Regions from separate parts of the Homo sapiens genome. Here region 2 is linked to region 1. Evidence: fine-mapped expression QTL. A gene starts in region 1. The other region holds a variant in brackets. All regions are shown on one strand. Distances are between the middles of the regions. Region 1 holds the start of LINC00327 (long intergenic non-protein coding RNA 327). Region 2 holds the start of SACS-AS1 (SACS antisense RNA 1).

Evidence for each region. PIP is the estimated chance that this variant, and not a neighbour inherited with it, causes the effect. A credible set is the group of variants that fine-mapping cannot tell apart.
Region 2: its variant is the best candidate, but not a certain one, in a credible set for the expression of LINC00327 in aorta (GTEx, PIP 0.76).

The regions. Positions count from the first base shown.
Region 1 is chr13:23,461,147-23,476,361 of GRCh38, forward strand. LINC00327 (long intergenic non-protein coding RNA 327) reads left to right here and starts at 8,366. Exons shown (of 3, transcript NR_038995.1): 1 at 8,366-9,045; 2 at 9,368-9,544. RefSeq lists enhancers at 58-227, 5,537-5,696 and a silencer at 5,147-5,426.
Region 2 is chr13:23,417,079-23,432,293 of GRCh38, forward strand. The region is part of intron 1 of SACS (sacsin molecular chaperone); the gene reads right to left. SACS-AS1 (SACS antisense RNA 1) reads left to right here and starts at 1,893. Exons shown (of 2, transcript NR_103450.1): 1 at 1,893-2,223; 2 at 9,889-11,791. The variant T/C (reference allele first, on the strand shown) is at 10,587.

The sequences.
Region 1 (15,215 bases):
GCCATGTGACTTGCTTTGGCCAATGGAAAGTTAAGAGTTATGAGATCATACACCCCTGAACAGTGTTTCCATGACTGGACTTGGATGCATATGCTTCCGCCATCACCATGAGAAGGCTGTGTCTGGGATGGCCGCTGTGCCCTGAGAGGAGGCTGAGAGACACATGGAGCACAGGTGCCCCAGCTCAAGTGCCCCAGCCTAGAGCTGAGATCAGCTGACAATAATGAGTGCTGGTTTAAGCCACTGAGTTGATGGTGGATTTTTTAAGGCATCTATACACAGTCTAGCTGCATACTACTCCAGATTCCCAGGCTTTGGGTATCTGACCCTACCATCCAAGCTACCATCATCCTAAATGTAAAGAGTATGTATGCCATACACATACTCAAGTCCCTTTTAAGCCGTTGAATAGGATAGGGCTGTTCTGTAACCCTCATGGAACAGCTTTCCAAATTCATAATTCAATCAGCAGTCTAACCAGACCAGTTAGTTATAATAAATTAATAATTGCTGACTTTTATTGAGCACTTACTATTTGCAACGCCCTGTCTTAAGCATGTGGTATGAACTATCTCATTTAATCCCCTTCACTCTATGAGTCAGATGATATAATCCCTATTTTATGATGAGCACAATGGTGAACACATGGCCTGAGGAACATACCCAAGTCACACAGCTGTGAGTGCAGCTGGGGTCCTCCCTGACAGCAGCACCTTCAATCCTGGGCACCTCATTCCCACCCATCGAATGCTGACCACATTCCAGGAGAGCCTGGCACATGGCTTTGGGGGAGTTGAGAATCAGTCTCAATTCTTAGTGGGATATCACTCACCGAAAAGCAGTCAGTGTGATATAAATAAAAAGAACATGAGATTTGGAGATAGCCAGACAAATGTGGGTTCACATCTGGGCTCCAGCACTGACCTACGGTTGTCTCCTTAATCTCTCTGAACCACACTTTGCTTGTCACAAAATGAAGGTAAAAATGCTAACTTCACATGGTCGTTTAGACTGTATAAAGCTCCTGGCTTGGAAAATTAGCCAGTTTCAGGAGATATTTGCTCTCCTCCCGGTCTTAGGTAAAAATAGGGTTGGTCCAACATCTTGCCCTGTGGTGTGTGGACGTGCTAAAGACTGCACTCAGGCCCTCCCTTGCTGGCCAGGCCATGTTTTGTGTTTATGAAACTAATTGTTTCACTGACTTGCACTTGTTGCTACTGACTCTTACACTGCATATTCAGGTCATTGCGTATTCCAAAAAAAGAATTCAGTCCTCTCCTTGAGCTAGCTAAGTGAAATGAAAGATAAGGCATTACTTCCTCTGAAAAACAAAATTTGGAAATTGAAAAACAAAACAAAGAAAACATTTTAAAAATTCTAATTAGAAGAGGGAATGGAAACTCATTTTCCAATTTTGGAAACCACTTCGTCATTTTGACACTAAATGTAGAAATGAACTCAACTTTGGAGCATGTAGGACCTCAGATCTCTACCACTGCAGATACTAGTAGCTGCGTTGTGCCCAGATAGCAATATAGGTAATGATTACAATCACAGGCTTTAGACCCAGAGACTCCAAGGAGGCTTATTAGCTGTAGGACCCTGGAATGTTTATACTTCGATTTACTCACTTGTAAGACAGAAATTACAATAATGCCACCTCATCTAATTGCAGTTGGAATGAAAAGAACTGATACTTAGAGAAACCTTAGCCCATAGTAAACTCTCAAAAAAAAAATCTGCTGAATTATCATTACTAATGAGATTTTGTTCAGTTAAATTTCTCTTTTAGAGCACATTTTTTTGATTTATGTAAGCATTACTGTAGCCATCCTAGGCAAAGCTACAAGAAAAACAAGGAACTGAAAATAGAAGGTTACTGGTCTCCCCTTTTAAACATTCCAGTTAAGTACCTTAAAATGCTATCTTAACATTTTTTTTAAACTTTATTCTTTCCACCTTTTCTTCTCTTTCCACTTTTCCTTCCCCTCTCTTAACTTCAAAAGCCTAACTGGATGCTAAGGATACCCGTGAAGGTTTGACAAAAGAACAGGATACTGACATGACATTAAATCTCTCCACCCAAACACTAATCAAATACAAAGTCCAAGATGGTGACTTTATCATGAAGGAACTGGCAGACACCAACTTGGTCAATTGAAAAATGTTGGCTCCTGCTCCTGAAAAGAACACAGCATAACTTCTGAGGTAGTCCTGCCAAGATGTGTGGACTGAGTCTAGACGTGAGATAACATCAGAGTGTTATCTCTGTATGTGTCATTTTACACTCTGAAGGGCCTGTACCTTTTAAGACTCTCGAGAACACTGTTATGAGCTGAATCATGTCCCCCTCAAAAATTTATATGTTGAAGTTTAACTCTCAGTCCTCAAAATATGACTATAATTCAGAGATAGTCTCTTTAAAGGGGCAATTAAGTTAAAATTAAAATCGAGCCATTGATGTGGGTCCTTATCTGATATAACTGGTGATTTTCTAAGACGAGGAGATGAGGAAACAGACACACGCAGAGGGGAGATCACAGGAAGACACATGGAGAAGATGGCCATTTGCAAGCCAAGGAGAGAGGCCTCAGAAGAAACCAAACCTGCTGACATCTAGAACTTGGATTTCTGGTCTTCAGAACTGTGAGACAATACATTTCTGTTCTTTAAGTCACCCAGGCTGTGGTGCTTTGCTATGGCAGCCAGAACAAACCAATACAAACATGAAAGAGGGAAAGACTGAGAAACTGTTCCAAATGGAAGGAAACTGATGAGATGTGACGGCTCAGTGCAACACATGATTCTGATCTTGGACCAAAAAGGAAAAAAAGGAAATACATTTTTGGGACAGTCAGTGAAATGTGAATGGGGTCTGAGGCCCAGATGATGCAGAATTGACGTCAACGCCCTGGTTGGGAGGGCTGTGTGGTAGTTACATAGGAGAGTGCCCTCGCTTTAGGGAGATCCACACAATAGTATTTAGGGATGATGGGCATCGTAGCCAAAAATGAATATGTCTGTAAATAAAGACAAAAGCTGATGAAGCAAATGTGGTAAAATACTAACAACTGGGGAATATGGGTGTTCTTTGTACTCTTTGTGAAGCTTTTCTGTGAACCTGAAACCGCTTTTTTTTTTTTTTTAAGGTTGAAAATGATGTCTTGGGATCCCTTGTGTACTGTTGGTAGGAATGCAAAAGTGTACAGCCACTAGGGAAAACAGTGTGGTGGTTCCTCAAAAAAATAAACATAGAATTACCATAGAGTCTTCTGGATGTATACCCAGAAGAAATGAAAGCAGACACTCCAACTAATATTGAAAATGTTTGCTTTCACACTCATGTTCACTGCAGCATTATTCACAACAGCCAAAAGGTGGAGGCAGCCCGAGTGTCCATCGATGGATGAATGGATACACAAATGCGCTATAAACAGACAATGGAATATTATTCTGCCTTAAAAAGAAAGGAACTTCTGACACGTGCTACAACATGAGTGAAACTTGAAGATGGTAAGTTAAATGAGCCAGACAGAAAAGGACGAATACTGTAGGATCCCACTTATATGAGGTACCTAAAATAGTCTAATTCATAGAGACAAAGTACAAACCATTTTTAACGTAAGATGGCTTGACTTATGGTTTTTTTACTTTACAGTGGTGAAAAATCAGTATGCATTCAGTAGCAACTGTACTTTGAGTACCCATATGATATGGTTTGAATTCTCACCTTGAATTGTAATAATCCCCACATGTCAAGGGTGGAGATAACTGAGTCATGGGGGCAGTTTCCACCATACTGTTCTCATGATAGTGAATAAGTCTCATGATATCTGATGGTTTTATAAATGGGAGTTTGCCTGCACAAGCTCTGTCTTGCCTGCCTGCCTTGCCTGCCTGCCGCCATGTAAGATGTGACTTTGCTCCTCCTTTGCCTTCTGCCATGATTGTGAGGCCTCCTCAGCCATGTGGAACTGTGAGTCAATTAAACCTCTTTCCTTTATAAATTACCCAATCTCCCATATGTCTGTATCAGCAGTGTGAGAACACACTAATACACCATAGAACCATTCTGAGCATTTACTGAGCACTTACTATTAGAGCTTCTCACTTTTAGTACAGTATTTAATACATTACGTGGGATATTTTGTACTTTATTGGAAAATAAGCCTTATGTTAGGTGATTTTGCCCAACTGTAGGCTACTGTGAGTGTTCTGAGCACGTTTAAGGTAGGCTGGGCTAAGCTGTGATGTTCAGTAGGTTAGGGGCATGGAATGCATTGTCAACTTTCTGTGGGTTTATCTGGACCTAACCCCATCATAAGTCAAGGAGCATCTGTAGAATGGTGGTTTTTCAGGAGCTAGGGGAAGGGGAATGGGAAAATGTTGTTTAATGACTGTGGAGTTTCAGTTTTACAAGATGAAAAGTGTTCTGGAGTGTGGCTGCACAATGGTGTGGATGTTCTTAACACTGCTGAAGAGGACACATACAAATGATTAAGATGGTAAATGTTTTTATGTGTATTTTTACCCCAAATACTTTTCAAAAAATATCTTGGCTATTATTTATCTCCTTATATATATGTCTTTTTTTGTTTGCTAGCATATAAATCTCTCGGAGGCAGAAAACATGTCTGAAATCTACAGCATGTAGATTTCATACAGGGCACAGTGGTTGACCAGTAATGAGTTCCTGCAGGAGGGGACCCTTCCAGTGAATGTAGACCTGGAAAATGAGATTGTCCTATTTATTCCTCTGAATATTCCCCAGCATCTATCACAGTGCTCTTTATAAAGTAAGTGCTCGGTAAACGTTCATTCGTGGTGATGCTAAGGACCGGAAGGGTCTTTAACCTTTTCTCTCCCTCCTAGCTCAGCCCTCACGGAACCCTAAAAGCTGGCTAAGGGGCCATTCTCCTCGCCACCTGGGCCTGCGTCTGCCGAATCGCTTCCTAAGGACTTTGACTAGAAACCAAAGGTCCCATTTTTCATCTGCCATTTATTTATCATTGCATAACTTAGGTAAGTCCCTCCGCCTTCACTGTCAGTTCTTCACTCATTGTTTTGCATCCAAGGAGTCTGGAAATAAGCGGGAACACCCTGCACGTGAGAGGGGCCCTGAAATTCACGAGGGGCTGGGGCTTTGCGTTTATTCCTCCAGTTCCGCCTGCAGCAACCCTGACGATCGAGCAGGGCCCGCGGGGGAGCGAGCGGAAGCGGGCAGCGTGCGCTGCTGTCCCGCTACCCAGCCCGCTAGGCTGCGCAGCTGCGTCTGCGGGCGGGGAGCCGGGGCGGCCGTGGGCTTCCTCCGGGCGCGGGCTGACGGCTGCCGCCTGTGGGCGCCCCAGCCCTGCAGCCGAGCGGGAGGGGCGGACCAGCGGGTGTCGGGAGCAGGCTGCAGCGGCCAGGCCTCTGCGGCTTCTCGGAGTACTGGGTCCACTGGAGAGCGAAGAGCCGCGGCCGCCAGGATTCCCAGCAGCGGCCGCGTGTTGAGAGCCTAGAAGTGGCCCCGAAGCCGTGCCTTTCCCGATAGCCAAGCAGAAGTAGGACTTGAAGCACCGAGGCTGGGATGCCCATGCTGGTGACGCCTTGGGGCTCGCAGTTATACTTGGTGACCGGTCTACACGGCGATTCGGTGCTTTCCGGAGTAGCAGATTCATCTATCTTTAGACCCACCTTCGTCCTTCGGCGGTTTAGCACGGCCTGCGCTTTCCTGCGAGCCCTGCTGTCACCCGAACAGCCTGATGACTTCACGCTCAACCACTGGAGGGCACAACCACATCATTTTTAAAAAATAGATTCCTCCACTTAAAGGACATGGTTTTGGGGGAAAGAACATTTAAAAAATGTAAAAAGATATATATCTATATCTATATATCTATCTCAGATTGTTCTGATATAAACTCAGGTGGGATTCTTCAAAACAGGAGGCTGTTCCAGTCTCTTCATTTTGCAGCTGAGAAAACGAAGGCCTTGGAGCTTGAGAACTCCAGTTGCCCAAGGCACACAGGTGGTGGGTAAGGAAGCTGATCATGTCTCCAAAGAATCCTTCCATGACCCAGGAGGATCCGGTGGGAGAGCAGGGCCGTCCACAGCTCAGCTAGGACACAAGAAGGCCCGGGGTGGCAGGAGCCCCACTGTGTGCTGCGGAGGATGGCAGAGGAAGTCAGCATTGTCCCGAAACTGCAGGATCATGTGATGTGATGGGAAAAAATTATGAGTACAAGACACAGGAAGAGCAGGTCACGGAAACACATGGTGCCCAGAAGGGCTTAATTAGTAGCAGCTGTGCGGGGTGATGCACAGAGTGCCCCAAGGGTGTCCTGAGTGAGGGTGGATGTCCCCTGCCCTCTGGCTTCGTGAAGGCTTCGTGAAGCCTGCCGGGTCACCCTTGTTTTCATGGATAGCTTCTTTAGGACACTCTCTCCACCAGTAATTGACAAAGTCTGCTTCTGTTGAGTGTCTGATAAAGGATTGAGTTTACATGATTGTTAAGATAGGATCATGAAAGAAGACAGAAGACGGATGTGAGTGGCCCTCAGAAAAAAAGCATCAAAGGAAACTGAGGAGTCTGTGTTCCGAGTTATAACATCAGTCCTGTGTGTAAGTGCTGAGTTTCAGCTCTGCCCAAGGCTAGGGGTTGCCTAGTCGGCTTCAACTGTAAGCTCCTAAGGGACAGTGCTGCCCCTTGAGATGACTGGGCAGCCATCAGCTTCATGCTAGAGGCTTTAAAGCAAACCCAAGATGGAGTCTCAGTACTGATTATTTGGGCCAGTGCCTTTCTTAACATTTCACGGATATATTCCTTTATTTTATTTGTTGTATTTTAGTACAGTTTTGCTCTATTCAGTCATGGTCATTCTTAGTTGCTGTTGTCTTTGTAAACTTATTTAATATCTTTTAAATATTAAAAGATTAAATAAATTATTTTCTAATAAATTCTTTTAATATTAAAATATTAATTTTTGATAAGAACCTTGTTTACTCTCAAGATTAATGTAGTAAATAAAGAAGACTAAAAACTTCAGAGACTGAAAGCTGCTGAGAATGTGTAAGAGAAACCTGGTTGTCAAACGCAATCCTGATCTTTTATCAGGCATCTGTATCAATGTGGATGATCTAACCGTGGTTAACTTCATGAAGAAGGAAGATATTTGATTTTCATCTGTTTAAAGAAACAATCTGTTTCTTCTAAAAGTATATACTCTAAAACACAAACCACTTGGCTGGGAAATAAAAGATGGTTATGCTTTATCATTTATATAAGCCTGGCCTTTCTCCAAAATGATTTTGATATAGCTTACAACAAAAAACGTGTTAGGCTTAATAAAAGAAGAATGGAAATGGAAACTAAGGATCAACAGAAAAGAGTATCACAAATACGGTAATACTAGCATATGGTAATATTATTTCTGTATTTGAGTGTAAAACGTGGCTGTGAGCTTCCTGGAGGCCAAGGCAAAAATAGAGACAAGAGCAACGTGCATAATATCATTAGCAGACAGAAAGATCATGTGACTTTTTAATTTTTTTCCCGGAAACTGAATCTAAAAAGAATCGCTCTATATAATGACTCATATATATGGTTTTAAGTGAAAAAATGATGAACACTGTCCTCCATGAGAGTTTTGGCACAAATTGAAGGAGGTAAGAACTGATATTGAAGCACAACTCAGTGAAGTTAATCCTGTCAGGCTAGGTTCACACAAGAAAACTTCTGACAAAATCCTAGAATTCCGGCAAATGCAGGCATGGAATGAGAGATTCCTATTCCATCTGCCTCGTTGTGCCTGGGGCCAGGCCTGAGTGTTGAAGACAGCTTGTTCCAATGTAAGATCAAATGAGATTGTTCATAACAGGAGTCTGCAGGAATATGGCACCTCTGATTTGAAATGATGGATGATTTTCATCAGCCGTGTATCTGCTTCCTTGGCAGCACCCCAAGTGCAGACCCCAGGCTGTTTCAGTGTGTCATCTGGCAGGCCCAAACAGAGGATGTCTCAATTGTGCATGTGTAACACAGCTTTAATTCATAATTTCATTTCTGGATGGAATTTTGAGCAGATGGGCATTGCTGTCCTTTTTAATGGTAAAAAATCAATGAAAGACACCGTGGTTTTGAAATTAATGAGCACTTGAAAAATACCAGCTTTGTTTGGCTTTGCGTTTTCTTTTTTCCTCTCCTCCTAAGTTGTTTGCAGCAAAATATTCAATTGAAAACTCAACATGTCCACTGCCTCCCAAAAAAAAAAAAAAATTCTGTGGAAAGTCTCCACTAACAGGAAGAGAGAAGTTCTTCACAGTTTGGTTTTATTTTTCAATGATAGTCATTGCCTCATTTTTAAAGCATTTATAATAAATTAAGCAAGTAACACTTGTGTACCAGTTTCTAATCAGTTTCTAATGTGCCTGGAACTTGCTGGGCTACAAAGAAAAGGATCAACTATTTTTTTTCCTGCACCCAAAGATATTGCAATCTTATCGGAGAAGGGAAACTGAGGCATGTGTTACAGTTAGAGGACTAGGAAGCACTAATCTGTGTCAGACTCCAAAGTGCAAATTCAAAGGAAAGACCATTGTTGGAGGGAGTGATCCGGAAGAATTCCTAGCCCTTACCTGTCTCAGTCATGCTTCTTGCCAAAGAAAAAGAGAAATCTCCAAGTATCTTAATGCTTTCAGCGCTTCTCCAATCTGACAAATATTTATTCAGATTCGAACTGACTGCCCAAGCTTCACTGCAGCTCCTCGTTTCCTGTTAGATCTTTTTAAAAATCTTTGCTTAAAACATTGAAGGCTGAACGATGAGCAAGAAAATCTTGCCTGTGAATAAGACACTGGGAACTGCACAGAATCAACATCAGCTCACAAGCTCATCATCTCACGCACGGATTCCTGAGCACATTCTCGCATTCTTGCTCTTAATCCTCCCTTGGCGACCTTCTACTCAGACATCATCTTTTATGCAGAGAAGCAGGCACGTTTCTCATCATTAATTCTGTTCTCAGCCAGGTGTGTAGCCACAGAGCATACAGACCACAGGATGATGTGAGTACCCCAGGATGTAAATTTGTGCGGAGTAATTACAGCTCAGGCTTCTTACACAGCTTTGGCCACATCAGGACATGAAGCTGTCTTGCAAATTGCGGGTGTGTCTAAGCTCTTAAGCACATGTGAACTTTAACGCACGTGCATTCCCTACTCACATACACAATACAAGCATGCCACACACTCACAATCCAATTGGCTAACTATGGTTATTAGCAGGAAAGAACAATTAATGGTCCTTGTGGTTACAGTTTTGTTTGAATTTTCGCCTCATCAAAAATGTAACAACCAACTAAAGCAGGCTTTCCTCCTTTTTTCCTAGTGAAAGCATATTGACTTTCCTGACTTCTTATGACCACATTTGAGGAAAGGAGTAAGCACTGGAATCACCAACACAGCATGCTTACGGAGGGTGGTCACCAGCTTCATCAGCCTCCCAATTCCACGGAGCCCCTTGAAAATCCAGGAGCGCAGACTGGCAACAGTAGAGATTTAATAGGTAAGACCTTGGGTTCAATGGACAGATCTCCTACAGTTCCTGATATCAGCCCCTATCAGAAATTATATTTTACTTTGTGTATTTCACATATTTCAAATAGAAGGGGTCAAGACTAATAGTGACCAGTCTTCATCCATTTGATAAACCTTTACTAAACACAACTGCAGCTTTGTTCTAGGCAGCATGAATGGAATGATTTACAAACTGTTGCTGCTCTTTGGGCAGTCACTGTTTTATAGGGGAACTCGAGAAGCAGTCAGGAAGGAAGGTCTCGGAGGAGATGGCCCTGAAACTGAATCAGACTTTAAAAGATAAGTTGGTCAACAGGGTTGGAGGGAGGGAGGGAAAAGAAGGTTTTGAAAGATAGATCTTTCAGAAAAAGCAAATAACTTGGGCACAGACATGGGCACAAAAAGGAAAAGAAAAGCCAGGGCATTCAGAGAATTGCAGAACATTTTGCATGACTGAGTATAGGAAGCAAGAGAGGTCTTTTGAGAAATACGACTGGAGAGGTGATGAGGGGCCAGATCTTGTGTTACACAAAGAACCTCTTATGCCACACAAAGGAATTTGGATTTTTTTTTTCCTTTTAGGCATAAGGAAGCCATTGAAGGGTTTTAAACAGGAACAATGTAATCAGATTTACTCTTTGGAAATAAGATCTCCTGGTTAGTTAATGAACTCGTATTTCTTTTTTTCTATGTTAACCATTGTTTTATTGTTTGGTCTTTAGACTCTATTATTGATTGAAATGCCAAAGTGATGGGAGTCAAGCGGCTTTGCCACTTAACCTTCCAAAGTTTGTTTCATTTGCTTTTAAAATAGTTATTATATTACGTGCTTTGCCTTATTAGTTTTGTGTACAATTAAAGCGAGATAAAGGCAGAGAAACTGGCTTGTAGTGCTATTGCTATGGACACCATTAGTTGATGTCAGAACAATTACAGATGAATCAATATTTACTATTGGACCAATTACAGACAAAACCAGAAAAGATTAGATCTAGCACAAACTTTATAAACTATTGAGCCTTTCATTTTATTTTGCATTTAAAAATCCTTACATCCGAGATTCTGAATTCTTTTATCAGGGGTGTGGCCTGTGCATTGAGAGTTTTTAAAGCTCTCCAGGTGATTTTAATATGCAATTAGATTTGAGAACCATGATTTTAGACTTAAGGGGCTTTAGAAGTAAATGTCTTTAAATTCTGTGATAATACATCATTCATAGGCTATTCAGGCTGTACTAAAACATAGAGAAAAAACAAAGACAATTATTGAGTTCATTTTATGAAGCAAGAACAATCTTAATAACAAAAGATAAAAACCTTTAAAAAGACGCGAAGCTATGATCTTTTTATGAATATAGGTGTAAAATCACAAAATATTATAAAAATATTTTAACCACATATTAAAAGAGTAGGCTAAATAGAATTTACTTTAGGAATTGAAGAATGGTTTAATATTGGGAAATTTATTATTGTAATGCCTGGGCAACAGAGCGAGACTCCGTCTCCAAAAAAAAAAAGAAAAAAGAAAATGCGAAGTTTAGTCTCAAGCTAAGACTAAATATTTGCAAATCATGTGTCTGAAAAAGGACTTGCATCAGAATAGAGAACTCTTATCACTCCATTAAAAAAAGACAATTCAAAATGTTGAGCAAAAGATATGAACAGATAATTCACCAAAGAATATATTATGATAGCAGATAAGCATATGAAAAGTTGCTCAACATTATCAGTGCTTAAAGAAATGCGAACTAAAACCATACTGAGATACTATGACACACATACTAGAATGTCTCTAATCAGAAAAACTGAAAATATTGAATTCTGGTAAAGATTTAGAGGAACTGGAATCCTTATACATTGCTGGTGAGAATGTAGAAAAGATACAGTCGCTTTGGAAAACAGTTTGTCAGTGACTCAGTAAGTTAAATACATCCACTTCTAAATATCTACACAGAGAAATGAAAATGTATGCTTAGACAAAAAACATTCAGCATTATTATTTTCCATAACCAAAACCTGGCTATTCTAGTTCAGGATGACATACTGAACATATGTGTTTACCTCGTGTCCCTCCTGAGACCCCAATGAAATGACAACGTAGAAATACAAAGAGGAATAAACTCATGCAACAAAAAAAGCATGGAAGGGTATCAGTAGACAAGAAATTTCAACACATTTCCAGAGGACAAAAAGCTGATGTACAAGCTTGGCGCAGTGGCTCACGCCTATAATCCCAGCACTTTGGGAGGCCAAGGTGGGTTGATCGCCTGAGGTTAGGAGTTCGAGACCAGCCTGACCAATGTGGTAAAACCCCATCTCTACTAAAAATACAAAAATTAGCCGGGCGTGATGGGGTGTGCCTGTAGTCCCAGCTACTCGGGGGGCCGAGGCAGGAGAATTGCTTGAACCCAGGAGGCGGAGGTTGCAGTGAGTCGAGATCGCGCCACTGTACTCCGGCCTGGATGACAGAGCAATACTCTGTCTCAAAAATAAAATAAAATAAAATAAAATAAAATAAAATAAAATAAGAAAGCTAATGTACAGGCAAGCGAAGGATGCTGAAGCCCAGAATATAATCGTTGTTGGAGGCTCTGTAAGAAGGAGCCAGCCTCCTCTATTGGAGACCTGAAAGAGAAGGAGCGAAGCAAAGGGAATGATGGAATATGTACACCACTATGTCACAGCCCTGCCAGTCACCCCTCCCTTTCCCACCCTTCCAGAGCATCTGGAAGGTCAACATTGTCACTGTTACAAAAGATAAAGAATGAAGGAATTTCACACATTTACCTAGGAAGATGTAAATCTTCTGTTGTAGATAATTTATTACAGAGTACTCCGTCCACATCCAGGTGCCCCACACAAGTGCTTCGCAAAGCATCTGTGGTGAAGGACCAGCTTTTGTGTTAAAATTTCAAATCCATTGCAGAAGGTTACTTTTTAAAATATAGTAGAAATAAATTACTAGAAAAATAAAATTTAAAAAGCAAAGGCACACAAAATACAAGCCCAAATGTTTTATTACCAGACTCAAGAGACAAAAGATTATATTTCTTTTTTTTTTTTTTGAGATGGAGTCTCGTTCTGTCACCCAGGCTGGAGCGCAGTGGCACCATCTCAGCTCACTGCAGGCTCTGCCTCCCAGATTCATGCCATTCTCCTGCCTCAGCCTCCTGAATAGCTGGGACTACAGGCGCCCTCCACCAAGCCCGGCTAATTTTTTGTATTTTTAGTAGAGACAGGGTTTCACCGTGTTAGCCAGGATGGTCTCAATCTCCTGACCTCGTGATCTGCCCGCCTCAGCCTCCCAAAGTGCTGGGATTACAGGCATGAGCCACCGTGCCCGGCCCCTAGACAAAATATTATATTTCAATCAATGTTATCAGAACAAATTTAAAATAGAAAAAAAGACAAGAATTACAAAAATGGTACATACTTATTGAAAGTGTGTGTATAGGCAATTAAAGTAGCCAATCATTTTTACATTAAAATATTTGTGTCATTCTACCATTGAAACTAAACAAAAGGTTATGAAAGGAATTGTAATTTCCCATATAGAAAACCTATAAGTTTTGAATAAACAGCATGTATAAAAATATCAAAAGCTTTTATTGTAAAAAATGAGCCTGATTCTTGTTTTTTAATTAATTTATGTTGGATTGTTGACAATGCTATTCACAGAAGATAATGCATGTCTAAACTGTTTCTACGTATTTTTTCCCTTGTTTTTTAAGATACAATTTACGTATCATAAAATTATCATTTTAAAGTGTACAAACAATTGGCAGGGCACAGTGGCTCTCGCCTGTAATCCTAGCACTTTGGGAGGCCGAGGCGGGTGGATCACTTGAAGTCAGAAGTTTGAGACCAGGCTGACCAACATGGTGAAACTCCGTCTCTACTAAAAATACAGAATTAGCTGGGCAGGTGGTGCATGCCTGTAATCTCAGCTATTTGGGAGGCTGAGGCAGGAGAATCGCTTGAACCCGGGAGGTGGAGGTTGCAGTGACCTGAGATTGTGCCACTGCATTTCAGCCTGAGCAACACGAGAGAACCTCCATCTCAAAAAAAAAAAAAATTAAAGTGCACAATTCAGTGGTTCTCAGTGTATCATATTCACAATTTGTGCAACCAAAAGCACTATCTAATTCCAGGATGTTTTCATCACCCCAAATGGAGATCTCATACTCTTGGGCAGCCATTGCCCAGTCTCCCGGCCATCAGCCCTGAACACTTCCTAATCTATTCTGTTTCTTTATAGTTTTGCCCATTCTGAACATTTCATATAAACGGAATAAAAGGCTACAACATGTAGCCTTTTTTGTCTGACGTCTTTTACTCAGCATAGTGTTTTCAAGGTTCATCCACATTGTTGTATGTGTCAGTAATTCATTCCTTTTTGTGGCTGAATAGTATTTCTTTGTGTGGATAGACCACAATTTATTTATTCATTCATCTGTTAGTGGACAATTGAGTTGTTTCCACTTTTTGGCTATTATGAATAATGCTACTGTGAACATTAAAATGTAAGCTTTTGTGTGAACATACATTTTCATTTTCTTGGCTATATCCCTAGGAATTGAATTGCTGGGTTATATATGAGAACTGTATGTTTAACTTTTTTAGGAACCAGCTGTTTTCCACAGTGGTTGTACCATTTTATATACCCACCAGCAATTTATTAGAGTTCCAATTTTTCCACATCCTTGCCAATATTATTTCCCTTTTAAAAATTATTATTATAGTCATTCTAGTGTGTCTGAAATGATATCTCATTGTAGTTTTGATTTGCATTTCTCTGATGATCAATGATGTTGAGCACCTTTTCAAATACCTGGTTGCCATTTGTATGCCTTCTTTGGAGAAATGTCTGTTCGAATCATTTGCTCACTTTTTTAATGGAGTTTTTTACTGTTGAGTTGTCAGAGAGCTTCATTCATATATTCTAGATACTAGATGCTTATGAGATACATGGTTTGCAGGTATTTTATTTCATTCTGTGGGTTTTCTTTTCTTTAGGACAGTCTCTTGATAGTGTCCTTTAATGCACTGTGATGCTGTGATGCTGATGAAATCCAATTTGTCTATTTTTGTCTTTGTTTACTTAGGCATTTGGGATCATATCTAGGAAACTAATGCCTAAATGATGAAGATTTACACACATTTTCATATAAGAGTCTTATACTTTGGGCTCTTTTTAAATTTAGTGGTTTTTTAAAATGTGTGTTTTGTTGTTTCTTTCAAGATACAGGGTCTTGCTCTGTTGCCCAGGCTGGAGTATAGCAGTGCAATTACAGCTCACGGCAACCTCAAACTCCTCGGCTCAAATGATTTTCCCACCTCAGCCTCCAGAGTAGCAGGCACTACACTATCCATTTTTAAAATATTTTAACATGGTGTGAGCTAGGGGTCCAAATTTATTCTTTTACCTTTGGATATTCAGTTGCTCCACCCATTTGTAGAAAAGATTATTTTCTCTCATTGAATGATCTTCACACCCCTGTCAAAAGTCAATTAGCTGGCCAGGTGCGGTGGCTCATGCCTGTAATCCTAGCACTTTGGGAAGCTGAGGCGGGCAGATCCTGAGGTCCAGAGTTTGAGACTAGCCTGGCCAACATGGTGAAACTGTGTATCTACTAAAAATACAAAAAAAAATTAGCTGGG
Region 2 (15,215 bases), 44 kb before region 1:
TAATGATAGACATTTATCAAGCAAGAAAAAAATGTTACCTTGGAATAATTATAATGAAAGAACTTACATAGGAATTTTAAGAAGAAAATCTATGAACTTTAATGAAAGACATTAAAAAGACCCTTTAAAAATGGAGTTATGTACATGATGAACCAGAAAATTAAATATCATTGAAATGTCAACTCTCCTCAAATTGATCTTGTAATTCAAAGCAATTTGAATCAAAACCCCAGCAACCTTGCAGAATAAAAACACAATAACCAAAGACACTACTTAAGAAGAAGAGGGAAGACTTGCTCTAGAAGATATTAAGCTTTAACATGAAACCATAATAATTATGTGGCATTCGCATGGGAACAATCAAAGAGAGTAAAAGGCTCAGAGACAGACCCTTGCATTAATGAGAACCTGATACATGAGAGAGGTATCAGCAGGGTTTAGTGGGGGAAAGCTGGGCCATTCCAAAAATGTTACTGGGGCAAGTGGTTAACTATATGGAAACAAGCACGAAAATTTATCTGAACCCCATACTGTGCACAAGTATCAATTCTAGATGATTAAGCACATAAGTGAGAAAATCAAACCTTAAAAATTTTAGAAGGAAGTGGAACACAATATCTTTATGGCTTCAGGGTAAATAAGAATTCCTTTAAAAACAAATAGAAAGCAGTAACCCTCAAGGAAAGGATTGTTAAAATCAAACTACAAGGCCGGGTGCGGTGGCTCACACCTGTAATCCCAGCACTTTGGAACACTGAGGCAGGCGGAACCCCTGAGCTCAGGAGTTTGAGACCAACCTGGGCAACACAGCAAAACCCCATCTCTACAAAAAATACAAAAATTAGCCAGGCATGGTGGCACGCACTTGTAGTCACAGTTACTAGGGAGGCTGAGGTGGGAGGATCACTTGAGCCCAGGAGGCAGTCTGCAATGAGCTTAGACTGCATCATTGCACTCCAGCCTGGGAGTAAGATTCTGTCTCAAAAAAAAAAAAAAAAAAATTCAAGTTACATTAAAATTAAGAATTTCTGCTCACCTAAGGCAAGCTATATAAAATAGAAGATATTTGCCACACAGCAATCAGCAAAAGTTTTGTGTTCAGAATATAGAAAGAACTCTTGAAAATAAAAAAAGAAACAACCTAAGAGAAAAGCAGAAATTGGGGAACAGGCTCTAATTTATATTTATCTTTCATATGGATAATACCTTCATTTAAATATAATACAAAGACTATCTCTGCTTGTAATGAAATAGTAATATACATTTAGTTCAACTTAATTTTTACTGTTTTCAACTACAGAAGTGCTTTTTGTTCCTTAATAATTATATGCTTAACATTATACAAGATTTTTAGACATATATGTTTGTTTCCCTTGTATATAAATTCTCATCTGATGTTTCCACATTTGAGTGCTTCAGTATAGCACCCATTTCTTTTTTTTACCTTACATGGAGTCTTGCTCTGTCTCTCCAGCTGGAGGGCAGTGGCTGATCTCTGCTCACTGCAACTTCCGCCTCCTGGGTTCTAGTGATTTGCCTGCCTCAGCTGTCTGAGTAGTTGGGCTTACAGGCACCTGCCACCAAGCCCAGCTAATTTTTGTATTTTTAGTAGAGAGGGGATTCACCATGTTGGCCAGGGTGGTCTCAAACTCCTGACCTCAAGTGATCCCCCTGCCTCAGCCTCCCAAAGTGCTGAGGTTAGAGACCTGAGCCAGGGTGCCTGACCAGAATATCATTTTTTGATCTAGCATTGCATTTGTGACTATCAAGGTGCCCATGGGTTTGTCTCCATGGGCGCCGCCCTCTTCCTAGGAGAGTAGGTGGGGAGTTTCTGTGCCCCCTCCCCCACCACGGGAAACTTGCCCTCTTGCACACGTGGTGCGGAAGGCGCCATTTTGGCCCAGTTGGTGCTGAGTAAGATGTTCTCGCTTCTCTGCTCAGGGCATGAAGATCTGGGGCAGGTGCAGGACTTGGGGCCCCAGAGAGTGCCACAATCGACTGCCCGTGGGAGTGGGCTGGTGCCTGGGAGCAAGAGCGCGGCCGTCCGGCGCCTGTGTGAGCCGACAGGGCAGCTCCGCCAGGGAACCAGGGGCCCGTCCCTCTGGGGTCATGGGCGGACAGGCACGGGAGCTGAGAGAGGGGACCGGGCCTAGGCCACAGGCCCTCCAAGGAAGCCACAGAGCCAGCTAGTGGCACCCAGGGACTGCGGGAAGCTTCGGCAAGGTAAGCTCTGGCAGGGTAAGCTCGGGACCAACATGGGTTTTAGTGTCTTTTCCTAGTGGTGGGGAATTTCTACAAGGTGGGTAGGACGTGTTAAGGGTGGCCTTAGCAATTTGTAGGCCTAGAGGCCGTCTAGGAGAGGCCTGCAGTTCAGAGTCTCAACAGGGCTTGATGGGGCCTGCCATTTCATTTCGCAATGTGGTTCCTAATGTTTCTTGGGAAACCGGGCGTGTTATGTCTCCATGTCACCCTTTACTTCTTGGATTTCTTGGTGTGCGTGGTTGCCTTTTTCTCTTTTCTTATATTGCAATTTCGGGTCCCACATTTTCTTCCATTCGAATCTGTGCGTCTTCTATGCAAAGCCTGTGGTGGGTCTTGCTCTCGGACTAGTTGAGCAGCATTGCACTCGTGTTGGTTGTGGGAGTTTCATCGTTTCTGTGTGTGTTCAGCATTCTGTTGCGAGTTCCTTATCTTCAGAATGATTGAGAAATGTAGTTTTCAGTTTTAAAGAATATATATTCTTTGGGGAGGTGATTTTATTGCATTTGGCCAGAGAATATGTGACCATTCGGTCACTGAGGACTGGTGTGTACCCCTAGGGACGCAGTATCCACCTGGAGACTGGGTGTCCCCATGGAACCTGATGTCACTCTGGGCCTAGCTGCCCACATGGGTCCTTGGTGTCCACCTGGAGCCTGATGTTCCCCAGGGACCTAGGTATCCATTTGGGTCCTGATGTTCATCTGGGACCTGGTGTTCACCTAGGGCCCGATAGTCACCGGGGGACTGGGTATGTACCTGGGGCCTCATGTCCACCTGTGGTGTGGGTATCCACGTTGGGCCTGTGTGTCAATCTGGTGCCCCATGTCCACCTATGGATTAGATACCCAACTGGGGCCTGCTCTTCATCTTGGACTTGGTGTTTACCTGGAACCTGATGTCCAGATGGGGCATAGATTATCTATGTGGGGACTGGTGTCTAGATGGGGTCTGACAGTCAACTGGGGCCTGGCCTGGTATTTTCCTGAGGTGTGACTGTGAACCTGGGGACTAAAGTCTACCTAGAATCCAGTGTCTACCTTGGGCCTAATGTCCACCGGTGGCCCAATGTAAATCTGGGCACTAAAGTCTACCTAGAATCCAGTGTCTACCTTGGGCCTAATGTCCACCTGTGGCCCAATGTAAATCTGGGGACTAAAGTCTACCTAGAATCCAGTGTGTACCTTGGGCCTAATGTCCACCTGTGGCCCAATGTAAATCTGGGGCCTGGTATTTAGCTAGGGCCTGGGTATTCACCCAGGGCTTGATTTCAGCTGGGCCCTGAAGTTCTCCTAGTGCCTAGTGTCCACCTGAGGCCTTGGTGTCAGTCGGGAACTGGATGTCCACCTGGGGCTTGAGTGTTTCCCGGTGCCTGAGGACTTCCTGGGCCTGGATGTTCACATGGGACCTAGATTGAACCTGAGGCCTGATGTTCATCAGGAGCCCAGGTATCCACCTGGGGAGTGGTGTCCACCCAAGACATTTGGAGTCAAGTGTCCACTTGAGGCCTCATGTCCACCTGGGGCCGGATTGTCCATCAGGGACCTGTTTTTGACCAGGGACCTGGGTATTTACCTGGGGCCTCAGTGCCCACTTGGGGCCTGACATCCACTTGGGTGTTGGTGTCCACCAGGAGCCTAATGTCCACCAGAGTCCTGGGTATCCTCCTGGCACCTGGTGTCTGCCTGGGGCCTGGTGTCCACCTAAAGTGTGGGTATCCACCTAGGACCTGGTGTGCACCTAGGGCCTTTGTCCACCTTGGGCCTGTTGTTCCTCTGGGGCCTTGTGTCCGCCTGGGCCCTGGGTGTGAGCGTGGTACCTGATATCCACCTGTGGCTTCCATAGCCACCTGAGGCCTGGTGGTCATTTGAAACCTGGTGTTCTCCAGGGGCCTGATGTCAACCTGAGGTGTAGATATCCACCTGGGTCCTGGATGTCCAGCTGGGGCCAGATGTCCAGCTCTGGTCTAGGTATACCCCTGGGGCTTGATATTCACCAGGGGTTTAGGCATTTACTTGGCACCTAGTTTCCCTGTGGAGTGTGCCGTCCCATGAGGATTGACATTCAGCTGGGGACTGGGTATCTACCAGGGACCTGGGTATCCACCTCAAGCCTATTGTACTCCTGGAACCTGAGTATTTACCTGGGGTCTGATATGCACCCAGGCCTGTTGCCTACATAGTGTCTTATGTTCCCCTTGAGCCTGAACGTCCGTCTGAGTCCTCGGTATCCTCTGTGGGATGGCTGTCCACCTGTGACATTGTGTCCTGCTGTGGCACGGATGTGAGCCTGGTGCCTGATATACATCTTAAGTCCAGTGTCCACCTGGGGCCTGATGTTGACCTGGGGACTGATGTCCACATGGGAACTGGGCATCCACCTGCGGCCTGATGTCCACTGGGAACTGGATGTTGCCCTGGGGTCAGGGTATCTACCTGGAGCGTGGTGTTCACCAGGGGCCTAGGCATCCACCTGGGGCCTGTAGTCTACCTGGGGCTTCCTGTCCACTGTGGCCCTGGTATTTACCTGGGGCCTGGACATCCACTTGAGGCCTGAAGTTTAAGTGGGGCCTGGTGTTCAACGGGGGCCCATGTGTCAACTTGGGAACAGACATGCACCGAGATGCCTGATATCCATCTGGGGCCTGGTTTCCACCTGGGGCCTAGTATTTACCTACGGCCTGGGCGTCCACCTATGGTGTATTATCTAAGTATCTAAGTAACAACGTTTGAGAGGTTATTAGGCCTATATATGAACATGCTACTAACTAGAAAAAAGTTATGTGCAAAGGAGCTTTGTGATGTACCTTATTATATTGTTGAATGGAACGTAACTTTTCATTAAACAAGTTCCTAACACATTTTATAGAATCTAACAAATGAGATTTCAGAGGCCTATATATAAACATGAAAATTCAGCCCAATAACTAAAAACAAGCCATGTGAGAAGAAGCTTTGTGATGTGCTTTATTATATCACTGAATGTAACCTGTGTTTTTATTAAAGAAGTTCCAAACACACATTTTATCGTTTTATACAACCTAAGGAATGACATTTCAGAGGCTGTTAGGCCCACATGTGAATATACAAATATTCATCCTTAATAACTAAAAACAATCTGTGCATGAAGAAGCTTTGTTATGTGGTATTTCAGATCACTGAATGAATGGAACCTGTGTTTTTATTAAACAAGTTCCAAACACACGTTTTATAAAACCTAAGGAATGACATTCCAGAGGCTATTAGGTCTTATGTGAATATTTGAATATCCATCTCTAATAACTAAAACAGTCTGTGTGCAAAGATGCTTTGTGATGTGGTGTTTCTTTTTTTTTTTTTTGAGACGGAGTCTCACTCTGTCGCCCAGGCTGGAGTGCAGTGGCACGATCTCGGCTCACTGCAAGCTCTGCCTCCTGGGTTCACGCCATTCTCCTGCCTCAGCCTTTGGTGTTTCATATAACTGAAAGAAACCTGTGTTTCTGTTAAACACATACTAGAAACATGTTTTGTAGAATCTAACCAATGACATTTCAGACATTGTTAGGCCTATATATGAACATATGAATATCCAGACCTATTAACTGGAAAAAAGCTATGTGCGAAGAACATTTGTGATGTGCTTTATTATATCACTGAATGAAATGTGAGTTTCCATTAAACAAGTTGTAAAAACACGTTTTGTAGAACCTATTTAATGAGATTTCAGAGGCAATCAGGCCTATATATAAACATATGAAAATCCAGCCTTAATAACTAAAAACAAGCTATGTGAGCAGAAGCTTTGTGATTTGCTGTTTTATATCAATGAATGGAACCTGTGTTTTTATTAAACAACTTCCAAGCAGACGTTCTTTAGAACCCAGGGAATGACATTTCAGAGGCTATTAGGTCTATATATGAATATACGAATATCCATCCCTAATAACTAGAAACAATCTGTGAAGAAGCTTTGTGATGTGCTGTCTCACATCACTGAATGGAACCTGTGTTTTTATTAAACTAGTTCCAAACACACATTTTTTAGAACCTAAGGAATGACATTCCATAGGCTATTAGGCCTATGTATGAATATACAACTATCTATCACTAATAACAAAAAACAATCTATGTGCGAAGAAGCTTTAGGATGCACTGTTTTATATCACTGAATGGAACAAGCATTTCTGTTAAACAAGTTCCAAAAGGACGTATTGTAGAATCTAAGTAATGACATTGCAGAGATTATTAGGCCTCTATATGAACCTACTAATATCCAGCCCTAATAACTAGAAACAGCTATGTGCAAAGAACATTTGTGATGTGCTTTATTATATCGCTGAATGGGACGTGAGTTTTCATTAAACAAGTTCCAAACACACATTTTGTGGAATCTAATTAATGAGATTTCAGAAGCTATTAGGCCTATATATAAACTATTAGGCCTATATATAAAAATACGGAGCCTTAATAACTAAAAGCAAGCTATGTGTGAAGAAGCTTTGAGCTTTGGGATGTACTATTTCATATGAATGAGAAGAACCAGTGTTTTTGTTAAACAAGTTACAAGCACTCATTTTTTAGAACCTAAGCAATGACATTTCAGAGGATATTATCCTATATATGAATATACGAGTATCCATCCCTAATAACTAAAAACAGCTTTGTGATGTGCTGTTTTATATCACTGAATGGAACCTGTGTTTTTATGAAACAAGTTTCAAACATGTTTTGTAGAATCTACAAAAATGACATTTCAGAGGTTATTGGGTTTATATATGAATATACACATATCCACTACTAATAACTAGAAACAAGCTATGTGTGAAGAAGCTTTCTGATGTGCTTTATTATATCACTGAATGCAACTGGAATCTCCATTATACAATTTCCAAACATATGTTTTGGAGAATCTAAGAAAGGAGATTTCAGGCCGGGCATGGTGGCTCACGCCTATAATCCCAGAACTTTGGGAGGCCAAAGCGGGCAGATCACCTGAGGTCGGGAGTTCGAGAGCAGCCTGGCTAACATGGAAAAACCCCGGCTCTACTAAAAATACAAAATTAGCCGGGCATGGTGGCGCATGCCTGTAATCCCAACTACTTGGGAGGCTGAGGCAGGAGAATCACTTGAACCCGGGAGGCGGAGGTTGCAGCGAGCCGAGATCACGCCACTGCCCTCCAGCCTGGGCAACAAGTGGGAAACTCTGTCTCAAAAAAAAAAAAAAGGAAATGAGATTTCAGAGACTATTGTACCTACATAGATTTTCAGCCCTAATAATGAAAAACAAGCTATGTGAGGAGAAACTTTCTGATGTGCTGTTTTATATAAATGAATGGAACCTGTGTTTCCATGAAGCAAGTTCCAAACACATGTTTTGTAGAATCTCAGATATGACATTTCAGGGGCTATCAGGCCTATATATCAACATATGAACGTCCAGTACTAATAACGAAAACCAAGCTATGTACAAAGAAGCTTTGTGATGTGCTGTTTTAAATCACTGAATGGAACCTGAGTTTCCATTAAACAAGTCCAAACACAGGTTTTGTAGAATCTAAACAATTACATTTCTGAGGTTATTAGGCCTATATATGAACATGTGACTATCCAGCTCAGTTAATTATCATGAAGATATGGGTGAAGGAGCTTTGGGATGTGCTTTATTATATCACTGAATGGAACCTGTTGTTTCATTGTATCCATCGGGGGCCTGGGCGTGAGCCTGGTGCTTGGTGTACACCTCAAGTCGAGTGTCTACCTGGGGCCTGATGTCCATCTGGACACTGGTGTCCACTTGGGGCCTGACGTCCACCTCGAGCTGGATGGTCCTCTGGGGTCAGGGTGTCCACCTGGGGCCTCCTGTTCACCTTGGCCCTGGTATTTACCTGGGGACTAGACATCCACTTGGGGCCTATGTGTCCACCTGGGACCTGACATACAGATGCCCGATGTCCATCTGGGGCCTGGTTTCCACCCGGGACCTGAATGTACCTGGGACCTTGTGTCCACCTGGGGCCTGGTATTAACCTGGGCATCCACCAGGGGCCTGGTGTCCACCTGGGGCCTATGTGCCAAACTGGGACCTGATGTTTATGCAGGGACTGGAGTCCACTTGACTAGGGCCTGGCATCAACCTGGTGTCTGATGTCCAGTGTCCACCTAGAGTCCAGTGTCGTTTGGGGCCTGATGTCGTGCTGGGGCCTTGGTGTCCACTAAGGCCTTATGTCCATGGTGGTGGGGAAGAGGTGGGAATCCTTGTCCCCATGGGCCCTGCCCTCTTCCTGGGGAGAGCGGGCAGGGAGTTTCTGTGCCCCCACCCCTCAACATCCAGGAATTCACCCTTCTGCACATGTGGTGGGGAAGGCGCCATTTTTGCCCACTTGGTGCCCAGTTAAGTTGCCCCGACTGCTCTGCTCAGGGTGTGAAGATCTCAGGTGGGTGCTGGACTTGGGGCCCCGAAGCTCCACCCCGCCTGACTCCCTGCGGGAGTGGGCTCGTGCCTATGAGCTAGAGCATGGCCGCCGGGGGTCTGTGTGACAAGGCAGAGAATATTAGTATATACAAAATTTTTATACAATTGGAATGATACTGGTAGTAAAATTAAAATGCAATACAATAAGATTACCTTGCAGGGGCATGGTATTTTAGATTTGTTAAAGTGATTTCATAGGGATGATCTTATTTCAGTCTCATAACAGCCTAGTGATTTGGTAGGGAATTGTGAATTTCATTATACAGAGAAGGAAACTGGTGTCCAGAAGAGTCCAGCAACAGCCCATACTTCGTTTAAATCCCGGTGGCTCCCAGCTCTTACTTATTCCCCACGACTGAGTGCCTGACACAAGTATAGGACTTCAGTGAGCCCAGAAAATCTGAGACAGGTCTCAGTTAATTTATAAAGTTTATTTTGTCAAGGTTGAGGACGCACCCCTTACACAGCCTCAGGAAGTCCTGATGACATTTGCCCAAGGTGGTCAGGGCACAGCTTGGTTTTATACATTCAGGGAGACATGAGACATCAGTTAGTATATGTAAGAAGTACAGGCCAGGTGCAGTGGCCCACGCCTGTAATCCCAGCACTTTGGGAAGCCAAGGCGGGCAGATCACCTGAGGTCAGGAGTTCAAGACCAGCCTGGCCAACATGGTGAAACCCCGTCTCTACGAAAATACAAAATTTAGCCCGGCATGATGGTGGGTGCCTGTAATCCCAGCTACTCGGGAGGCTGAGATGGAAGAATTGCTTGAACTCGGGAGGTGGAGGTTGCAGTGAGCTGAGATGATGCCATTGCACTCCAGCCTGGGTGACAGAGTGAGACTCCGTCTCAAAAAAAAAAAAAAAAAAGAAGTACATTGGTTTGGTCTGGAAAGGGGGGACAACTTGAAGCAAAAGCAAGAAGACTGGAAGTGAGTCAGACAGGTGATACACAAGTGGTTGCATTCTTCTGAGTTTCTGATTAGCCTTTCCAACGGAGGCAAATCAGATATGCATCTATCTCAGAGAGCAGAGGAGTGACTTTGAATAGAATGGGAGGCAGGTTTGCCCTAAGCAGTTCCTGGGTTGAGTTTTCCTTAGTGATTTTGGGGGCCTAAGATATTTTCCTTTCACCCCCTCAAACCTCATTTCCTTCTTCCTCCTTCTCTTTCTTTTCAGAAGAGGAACGCTGCTTCTACCCTACCATTTGGGGAGTAGCACCACCTGATGGAAGAGAACATTCTTCGGTCTTCTCCTCACCATGGCTTGAGAATCGCATAATCTCGCTGTGCCCAACTTTCCTCATCCCTAAACAGGGCCAGCTTGCCTTATCCATGAACTGTATCACCGCAACACCAAACTGAGCTGTGTTCTAACAGCATTTAGTCAACTGCAGACGGTTTTTGCAAATATTAGATGCTACTACTTTTGCTGATCTAATATTTTTTAACACATGAAGTGACATGAAATGTGTTCATGATACTCTCTGCCCACTGATTCATGACCTCCTCTCATGCTTCAGGGGTCAAAACAATCAGTGCTGTCCAGCAGCTGTTAGGGACAGGGGCTCCCCTCCTCCCCAGCTTGGAACCTCAAGCCACTGCCCACAGCTAGCAAGCAGATGTGCCACGCAGTGACCTCTTGGCCTTCCCAGCAAAAATATCCTATTTTGGCATATGGGCTTGACCCACAGTAGGAAAACTTGGCACTACTGTACATATGATCTCATTTAAGGAGTAGGAAGATAAACATGCCAGCTGCACTTACTCACTGATGGGAAAAGTTCTTTGAGTTACACAGTTTCAAACAGGAACAGCCAGGAGACTGGGGACTTAAATCATAACTATTGTATAAATAATGGGAGCTGTTCCCTGAGC[T/C]AAACGCCGCCCTTTGGCAGAGGTAGAGCCTTTTGGCAGAGGGAGGCAGGAGAAGAGTGTGGGAAGTGAAGAAGTTCCTGAGGTGACAAAGTGAATTGCACCGGAGAGAAGGGGGGATAAAGCTGCTTCCCAGAAACTAGGACAGCAACACCTGGCTGGTCCCCGAGGACGAGGACGGGACAAGAAAGGCCTCTCCTGCAGGAATGAGGTTAAAATACAATCAGGAACCACACGAATACTCTATCTCCTCTGATATGCTGTCTTGTCTGTTTGTTTAAGAGTGTCTTTGGGACTAGTAAAGCCCCTCTTCCCTGAAGGATTCCTTCGCTTTTCATAGTTTTCAGTGCTGCCGTGTTCACAGACACGCCTCTGCAGCTGCACCTGGCAGAACAGCTTGAGTTTCCCTAGAAACGCTCTTTGAGAAAGGAATAGAGGCAGAATTGCCCTTGGTGATCTCCTAAGAAATGGGGTCCATGTTCATCTGAAGATGGGAATGAAAAATTCATCCTTTTGGTTCAACCAAATTCATACATGGCCAAATCCTCTGGAATATGGTGAAAGCTGACCCTTGAAAGCCGCTATCATTACAAAAACAAGGAGCCAAATGCAGACAGACTTCAGGCCCACAGAACGCCTCCATGGGAATTATCAGCGAAGTAATCATCTCACTCTCCTAACTTCAGGAGAAAATATGAGTCAGCAAAGACTAAATTGGTTTAAAAATAGAATATTTGCAAAATGGAAAAGTCGGATGAATTCACGCTATAAATCAATAGACCTTTAAAGGTAAGGCACAGCAAGCATTTTGGATGACATTAATGAAAGACCTGTGTTGGCATAGTGTGCTGCAGGAAAGGTCGGGGGTCACCACAGCCAGTACCAGACCTTAAATATAATCCTGAAATTAAATATGTACGTAAAATAGTTTCTAGAGCACAAAAGGTGAAGGTAAAGGAGAGTGCTACTGATCTTTTGTGTGTGTGTAATAAAGATTTCGATGTAAAATGTACAACAGAAAAAATACTGTATTTCAATAATAAGAAAAATATATAAATTATTCCCCCAGTGCTCCAAATCCCTTCTGTGTCATACAAATCTTTCTCATCTACTTTGCTGAAAGTTGCTCAAGAATATCTTATTCACCTTTGACTCTCCTACTTAGGTTTATGGATACAGAAAGTATTCAATAAAGAGTGAATAATTTAGTCTCTTTAGCCAATTTACAGATAATAAAACTACACATATTTTGTATGTAGTTTATCTGGCCTCAGATTCTAGCTTGTCAACTGGCAGAGCTAATTGTGGAGGCAGGAGACTAGAAGGCTGGCACCGAAATAGAATCTCCCAGAGTCTTAGGTTTGCCTTCAAAAGCTCAATTATTCTCAAAGATAAAATTTTACATAAAAATAATATCACATATGAGTGAATTGTATGGTATGTGAATATCTCAAAGCTGCTAAATGAAATTTTAAAAATAGATTATATGACTAAAATATATTTGATGTTTAAGTGTCATTTCAGAATACATAATATCTTAATTGATATTATCTAATAATATTGACTTTTTGAAGGAAAAATAATATTCAATTATTTCTTTAAAAACTAATTCTTTGGGGAGGATTGACCATGTACAACCATGGCAGAGGCTCACTAAACTGTGATTCAGTCGTTGAGGTAGGGATTTTTTTTTTTTTTTTTTTTTTTTTTTTTTTTTTTGAGACGGAGTCTCGCTCTGTCACCCGGGCTGGAGTGCAGTGGTGCGATATCGGCTCACTGCAAGCTCCGCCTCCCGGGTTCACGCCATTCTCCTGCCTCAGCCTCCTGAGTAACTGGGACTACAGGCGCCCGCCACCATGCCCGGCTAATTTTTTTGTATTTTTAGTAGAGACGGGGTTTCACCGTGTTAGCCAGGATGGTCTCGATCTCCTGACCTCGTGATCTGCCCACCTGGCCCTCCCAAAGTGCTGGGATTACAGGCGTGAGCCACCGTGCCAGGCCCGAGGTAGGGATTTTTAACCTATCATGAATCCCATTTAAGAAGGAGGAAGCTGAGGCTGCAAGAGGTTAAGTGTCAGAACTAGTATGATGTGGAGCCAGGTTCCAAAACCCAGTATATCTTCCTCCAAATACATTAAAATCTTGGGTACTTTTTATTACTATTCTTAGCAGGGACTCTCAGGAATATGACAGTAAAATGAACATAGATCTGTTCTTTGTAATCAGGATTGTCTCTGGATGGTCACTTAGCATAAACATTTAATATAATATTGGCTGGGCTCACGCCTGTAATCCCAGCACTTTGGGAGGCTGAAGTGGGCAGATCACTGGAGATCAGGAGTTCAGGACCAGCCTGGGCAACATGGTGAAACTCCGTCTCTACTAAAAATACAAAAATTAGCCGGACGTGGTAGCAGTCACTTGTAATCCCAGCCACTCGAGAGGCTGAGGCAGGAGAATCACTGGAACCCGGGAAGTGGAGGTTGCAGTGAGCCGAGATTGCACCACTGGCCTCCAGCCTGGGTGACAGAGTTAGACAACATCTCAAAAAAAAAAAATTAATAAATAAAACTAAAGGAATATTTGGTGTAATTGACAAAAAACTCATAAAGATTGGTTGTAATTTATGTTTGAAGCTTAAAGACCTAACAAACTAATATCCTTAAGCTCTAAGTAACTATCATTGATCAAGTAAAGCTCTGTTTATATCATATTGCCAAATTTAGCAAATAAAAATTATAAATATAAACATATACACCTTAAGTTTGAGTTTCAGATAAACCACGAATTATTTTTTAGTATGTTTATGTCTTATGCAATATTTTTTGTATTTAATCTTGTAATCCTATCAGGGTTTTTAAATGGTGAAATTTATCATTGCATTAAAAACAAGGAAAAAGGCTAAAGTAGTACTATGTGAAAATGTGCACAAATTCTAGATACGTATAGAATTCAAATACTCCTTTCTAGCACTTAGTACTTTAATGAGGTAAGGATTTAAATGATCACCAATAATTATATTAGGATGGCTTTGATTTATTTTTAAATGTCATTTCAGAACACATTAAAAGGCTATGTGGACTGTAGAGCCCTTATTTTCTGCCCCAGATGACAAACTCATGGTGTAATCTCGAGCAGAATATTTAAAACAAATGTTTGTCTGGATGTAAGGTTATTATAATTGGACCACAGATCTCTCCTGACAAAACCCAGAACCAACGTGTCACCTTGGGTTTCACATCGTCGTCAATTTGAAGTGCCTTGAGGGGGATACCATGGTAGGAACAGAGCTCAGAGTTCAGTCTGAGAACTCAGTGATGCTCCCCAAGGGAATCGAGTCTTACCATCTAGTCAGTCTCTCCTTTTACTAATAAGAAATACTTGGGGTTCTACTCTCTCTTAAGGTTGCATTTTGTAATCTGCAAAATGGGGCTGCCTGTTTCATAAGGCTATTGTAAGAATCAATGAGATAAAAGCATTTAATTTGATCAAATAATTGTTGTAAACTGAGGCTACCCCAAAGAGAGCTATCTGAATCATCTAGTCAGAACCTGAAGGAAATTGAAAGATTATTCTATGTCTCTTGCCTTAGAGATGGCGTTAAAAGGCTTTCTAATTAGCACAAAGAGAAGTCAAAGCAGGGCTGGAGCCACACCCTTTGGTCCCCAATCCAGTGCTTTTCCCAACTTCGCTATGTTCCCCCTTAGGTAGGGGTGAAACGGCCTCTCCTAGACGTTAAAATCTTACACAATATCCTGAGTGTGAGTTAAGGAAAGGAAAGACGGCAGGAGAAAGACACATAAAGTAGAAATTAAAATAGTAACAGGATTGTCATTGCAAAGAGCAAATTGCCACCCAGGCTGTCCAAGATCAGAATAGCAATGGGAATTGTCCTGACTTCCAATTTGGCATCCTCTGCATCAATCACATTTAGTAGTCCTCATGTAGGCTCATGGTGGGAGTGGTCAATATCATCATCACTGCTGCTGTCTTAAAGGATTTAGGAAGAGTTGTACAAAGAGAATCGGCCTTCCTTCTTCCAAAGAATACTCCTATGGCAACATGGAAACATCAGCGTTCCTTTTATAGACAAGAGGGCTTAGAACAGTGTTTCGTGCATAGCAAGAACTGAATATGTATTTTGTACTGATCAGGACTCATTCAGATGCACTCAGCCAAAAGTTCATTTCAAAATTTATTCCTTTTGGGAAATGGTGCATGAACCACTTTAGCATGCTTCACCATGGTGGTTAGGTAGATGGTGGACTGAGTGAGAAAACGACAAAACTCTTACTAAATAGTGACACTGTGTGAAGAACCCTGCTAGGCGCCTTCATACAAATCACCTGGTTTCAACCCTGTGACCATTAAGTGAATAATTGTGTCATCTCTGACACAGGAGGGAACTGAGGCTCACAGAAGTTATGTGGATTGTCAGGGGCTGCAGAGTAAGGATGTGGTAGACCTGAGATTGGAACCCGGGGCTTCTGGGGGCAAGTCCTGCGTAAAGCAATGGTTTTGAGATGCTTCAGATGTAAGCAAACCTTGGTCTTCAAGTTCTATAATTGGACTTTTCTTCCTATTATGTGAAGAATAGAAAACACTTAATCGTGGAAAAGTTCTTATAAACCA